Linked DNA regions of Homo sapiens: region 1 is linked to region 2. Evidence: fine-mapped expression QTL. Tissue or cell type: uterus. Region 2 holds a variant in brackets; the other region holds the start of a gene. All regions are shown on one strand. Distances are between the middles of the regions.

Region 1 (2,677 bases), 24 kb after region 2:
TGCCCGCTGAATGGATGGCATCTCTCCCTCCTGTCTTATGTTCTGGGGTCCAGGTGCTTCCCAGGGCCATGCCCCTGCTGCTAATGCTTGCCCTAACCCTTACCCTAACCAGCGTCCAGCGTCGTCTCACCGAGCCGTAAATAAATCAACAGATTCGCATTGTCTGCGCTTCTCTCCAGCCCCACTGCCTCGGCCTGAGCTCGGGCCTCACCTTTCCAGCCTGGCTGGGCTGGCACTCCAGGCTGCATGCAGCCACTTTCCTGTCTACCCTACCCGGTCCAGGTCCTGGACTTTTCTGGCCTCTAGGCCTGACCTGTCCTCGGAGCCAGGCACAGGGAGGGAGACAGGCAGGGCTCCTGGGGCTTGCTGAGAGTTGCTCCCAGTTCCGTGGGAGAGAGGCCACCCCCCACCCAGCACCCCTGAGGGGCATACAAACCCCTGAGGAAGTCTGGGTGTGCGGGGTAAGGGAGGCGGGAACTCCCCCAGGACCCCATCCCACCATCTCTGACCTCTCTGCCTACCTGGTTCCTGACCCCAGCTTCTCGACTGCCCCAGGAAGGAGGGCCTGGATCTGCCAGCCCCTCTTTCAGGATCTCCCTCCTCCTGGGCCCACCTCCCAGCCATAAGGAGCCCCCGAAACGGAGGGGTAGACAGAAGCCATGTGGGCAGCCCGAGAGACACATAGGGGTCCCCGGGTTGGCATGGCTGACTGGCTACGGACAGGCCCTTTGGGGCCCCAGCCCCTGGCCAGCCTTTGGAGGAACAGCTGATGGCTCCCGCTCTCCAGGGTGTCCCTTCTGGGCTCTTACCTTATCCTTGGGGTCCCTTTTAGTACCAAGGGCCTTTCTGTCCCCCCTACTCCTCTGCACAGATCCTGGGGCGTTAGTCACAGTGTGACAATGGCCATGATTCCCTGTACGGATGACAGAGAGGTGGCTCACAACCATGCTCCCTCTGTGTTCTCCCAGCCCTGCGGGGGTCAGGATGGGAAAGCTCTGGCTTATTTGGAGGAGGTCTTGTCATGGAACTCATTCTAGGGTGGGAGTACAGATGAAGGCCTGTGGCTTCCACCCAGCCCTGAGCTTCATGTGCATTTTGAGGCGTAAGGGGTGGGCTGGTGGCTGGTGCCCAAGACCCTCCTTCCCACCAGACCTTCCTTCCCAGCCTCTGAGGGAGACCGGCCTGTGGCCGTCACCTGCCTGGTGCCAGGCCTTCCTTCCCAGCCACTGAGGGAGAGTGGCCTGTGGCCATTGCTTGCCTGGTGCCAGGCCATTTTATCAGATCCTCAATCCTGTCAGCCAGGGCTATCCCTACTTTATGGACAAGGAGAGATGGCTCATGAGATGACACCGGCCCGCTCAGAGGCCTAACCAGCGAGCTTTGGGGCCAGGTTGGCCCCTACCGCCCGGACCCCAGCCCGGCTCCTTGACTGAGCCCGGCTGCCTGGTGACTCAGACCCGCAGAGTCTGCTGAGCGGGCGAGGGCCAGGGCGGGGTGCCAGCAGGTATAAGGCAGCCGGCCAGGGCGCCGACAGCCCGACCTCACCAGGAGAACATGCAGCTCGGCACTGGGCTCCTGCTGGCCGCCGTCCTGAGCCTGCAGCTGGGTGAGTCCAGGGGCTGGGGCCACCTCCTGCTCAAGGCCCCCATCACTCTAGCCCAACCACCGTCCCTCCAGCCCTGGGCTGTGACTGCCCACCTCGGGAGAACCCATTCCTGTCCCCCCACCATCTACCAGGTGCAGCTTTCCTCCGAAAGCCTCCTGCGATCCTGCAGGTCCATCCAGCTCAGCCCCAGCCCCCGACACTGGCCCCCACACTTCTCAGGATGCACAGCCCTTGGCTCAAACCCCCCTCTTCCTCTGCCCAGCCCCCAGACCTCTCCAGTCCACCGCGACACCCCTCACACACGCACCTTCGTGCACGTGCACACACACACTCTGAATGTGCCCCCCTCCAGCCCTCTTGGGCCTGGCCTCCCAGCTGGTTTGTCTCCTGGGGCCACCCTCCCGGGACTCCCTCTTCCCTCTTGCCTGGGAAAACCAAGTCCCTCTGCTCTCCCATCCCCAGTTCCTGCTCCCGGGTCCTCTCCTCTGCTCCCCGCTTTCCTGGGTGATTTTACCCCCTCCCCATCCCCCAACCCTCGACCCCCGCAGTGCCCACGTCTGCTACGGCTGGCCCTGTCCCCCCAGCTTCAGATCCCTTGGCCCAGGGCCTTCCTGAGGGCTCCAAGGGGATGACCCCTCAAGCACAGCTGTGCACACCTGGCCTTGGCATCCCCCAGCAGAGCCTGAACGTCTTCTCTTGGCAGGGCATCTCCACCCCCACCCTGAGGCCTCAACAAAACCAGCTGGCCCCTTGATCTGCCGGTGGCCTGCACCTCCAAGCCCAAGCAGCCCAGCCCCCCAGGGGCCAAGCCTCTGCGTCCCTGGCTGTGGGTTGAACGACCTGGGCAGCCCCTGCCTCCCAGGCCCTGAATGAGCAGGGGGTGGAGCGTCGGTGAGTCCCTGGCGCTGGCTCAGGTGTCTCTTACATCCCTCCAGTCTCCATCCCCAGGGGCACCCTCCTGGCCTATGAGAGGCTGAGCCGCTGACCCTGAGGACTGCCCCAGGGTCATGAGGGCAGACCAGCTCTGTGCTGAAGGTCCGAGACACACAGGGGCCTGGGGACTCGACTTAA
Region 2 (2,677 bases):
GGCTGCTGCCTGCCGCTGGACTCCTGCTCCAGAAGGAAGAAGGCCTCCCAGCAGCGCCCTCGGCCTGCCCAGTGCTTCCTCTCAGCCTCCCGGGGCCGCTGCCCCCACCCAGCCTGCCACTGGTCTCCCGAGCCCGTGCCCGTGCTAAAGAAGCACTCTGCAGGGAGCGCTGTGCTCCCAAGCACCCAGGAGCAGGGAGCTCGGGTCAGCGGGAAAAGCTCCAGAAGCTCCTGCTGCCTCAGCGGGCTTCTCCCCCGTTATCGCACCTTGAGCTGTCTGGAGGCCAGTAGAGGGCCGAGTGGGTTGAAGGGACCTGAGTGAACCCCCTGGGAGCCAGGCTGTCAGGATTCCCACGGGCTCCCCAGCATAGCTTTCCACAGGCCCCAGCCTGCTGGGCTCTAGGGATCCACGGGGAGGTTGGTGTGCGGTCAGGTGCTCTCAGCCACCCTGAGAGTAAAGTTGGAGTTTTCTTTTCTCAAGGAAGGTGGGAATCCTGACTCCTGCCCGAGGAGCTTTCCCAGGCAGGCTGACTCAGGAGGGGCTCACCCTTCAGGGCAGGCCCCACCCTTGCAAGTCCCAACAGAAACCGCATCTGATGCCACCCAGCAGCCCACAGCCTCTGCCTGCAGGAGCCTCTGTGTCCAGAAGCCAGGCATGGCAAGGAGGCTGTTTCCACACAAAGCTGACCACAGCCCCTCGCCACAGGGGAAGAGCTGGGGCACAGGGAGCCCCACTCCTGGGTTGGTGAGTGCTCAGCTGCACCCCTGGGCCCTCCGGCTTCCACATCACTAAGTCAGCAGCTCTGGAGGGCATCTCCTGCACACCAGGCATCATGGCTCTCAGATGCCACAGTGACAGACTGTCCCTGCCCTCGAGTGGGCAGGTAAGAGTGGGCACAGCAGGCAAAGTGACAAGCTCATGTGGGCTGCAGCGCCTGGCCAAGGTGTGAGGGAGGCAGGAGGGTAGGAGGGACAGGCCTCGGGGGCCGTGGCTGGGGCCCTCTGGAAGGCACCAGTGTCTCTGACAATGAGGTCAATGTGCAAAGGCCCGGAGGTAGGACAGGGCTTGATGGCCTGAGAGGAGACCCGGGCACCGAGACAGAAGGGGGTACCCAGCCCCCCGAGATGGACAGAGCACACAGACCGCCCAGTCAGGGCCCAGAGGCAGGACAGGGAGGCTGAGAGTGTGGGAGAGCACTGAGGGGGTCCAGGGGAGGGACTGCATCCAACCCAAGTGCAGGGTAAGGAGTGAGGACTGCAGGGCGGGGCGGTGCAGGCAGAGGCAGGCACAGCCCCCAGCCAGGAGGAGGCAGGGCCAGACTGGGGCCAAGGGAGAGGCAGAGGGAGGGTGGAGATGTA[G/T]GCCTCTGGGGGCCCTTGCATGGCCTCTGCGGGTTTGAGGAGGAGCAGTTTGGGGGAGAGGTGGGGCTGAATGGGTTGGAATGAGTTACCCCTGAAATGCCCGAGGGAGGTCTGGGTCCAGGGAGGAGAGGCCACCAGGCTCAGCAGGGCTCAGGCTGAGATGTGCGGGACAGTGGAACCCAGAGCCAGCATTGTGGTTAGACCCTGCTGTCAGCAGTGCCAGCTCTGAAATGAAGGTGGGTGGGGCTTTCTCAGGTCCCTTCAGTGCCGACCTGGCTCCTTGTGACCTGGGCTGCCCGTCAGAGTTGCTCCTCTGTCCCGGGCACAGCTGCATGGGCTCAGGGGCTCCTGGGCCTCCATGCTCCTTCCATTCGGCATCTCCTGCTCCCCAAGGACCCACCCGATTCCCTTCTTATGTAACACCCTCTTGATCCCTTAAGCCCCTGGGGTCCTGGTGAGTTCCCTGGCAGGGCCCAGCATGGGCCTCTCTTCCCTCCCCTGGAAGCCTGGCCTGGCCCGGTACCCAGTGAGGACTGCAGCAACACGCACACCTCCTGCAGGGACAGCCCACCCCAGGCCCTGCCCAGGACCCAACATCCAAGCTGAGCAGGGAGCAGCCATGCTGGGACGCTCCAGCCTCAAAGCTCAGCAGTCACCTGATCCCAGGAGGAGCAAAGACAAGCCTCCTCCACCCAAGTCATGTGGTGACAACTCACATGGCCCTGTGGAGGTGCTGGTGCCAGCAACAGACTGAAGACAGGGCATGCAGTGCATGGAAGATAGTTCTTTCATTCCTAAGGGCTAGGATCCATGATGTCCCCCCAAGTTATCCTGTAACCTTTAAAAAGCATGTGTCTATGGTCTGGGTGTTGCCAGCCCCAAAGCTGCTATGACCTGCTGCAGACCCAAGGGTCTCGGAACCCTTGCCAGGATGGACTCCTTGGCCTTTGAGAATTACTGTTTTGTCAGGGGCAGGTGTGGGTGAATAGAAAAGGAAGAGCGGGGAGAGAGACAGAGAGACATCATTCTAACTAACTCCTAGAGGACACATAAGTGGTATAAGGGCAGTGCCCACTGGTGGGAACACTGAGTTGGGGACAGGCCCTGGAGGGACAAAGCCACTGCAGACCACCAAGTAACCCTTGCCTGAGAAGCGCGGAAGGCTGGTCCGAGGTCTTGCTAGGACTTCCCGTGAGGGAGCTGGTCTGCACTGACTCATGGTGGGGAGTCCTTTGGTGGGACAGGAACTCCTACAGGGCAAGGGAGGACCACAGGCAGAGTAAGAAGAAGAATGCCTGTCCTGAGGACAGGAGAGCAGG

Alleles and levels. Alleles are on the strand shown, and positions count from the first base shown. SD is a standard deviation of normalised expression in the study named.
For the expression in uterus of the gene that starts at base 1,533 in region 1, allele G in region 2 goes with a lower level than allele T (moderate effect, 0.55 SD a copy in GTEx).

The links. PIP is the estimated chance that this variant, and not a neighbour inherited with it, causes the effect.
Region 1: it holds the start of SLURP2, and the variant in region 2 is the best candidate, but not a certain one, in a credible set for the expression of SLURP2 in uterus (GTEx, PIP 0.69).

The regions. Positions count from the first base shown.
Region 1 is chr8:142,768,684-142,771,360 of GRCh38, reverse strand. It overlaps SLURP2 (secreted LY6/PLAUR domain containing 2), which reads left to right and starts at 1,533. Exons shown (of 3, transcript NM_177458.3): 1 at 1,533-1,606. The coding sequence starts at 1,555. The region is part of intron 3 of LYNX1-SLURP2 (LYNX1-SLURP2 readthrough); the gene reads left to right. It overlaps LYNX1 (Ly6/neurotoxin 1), which reads left to right. Exons shown (of 4, transcript NM_177477.4): 4 at 1-159.
Region 2 is chr8:142,792,987-142,795,663 of GRCh38, reverse strand. No RefSeq gene overlaps it. Among named protein-coding and RNA genes, the nearest start is that of LY6D, 7.8 kb to the right of the region's middle. The variant G/T (reference allele first, on the strand shown) is at 1,359.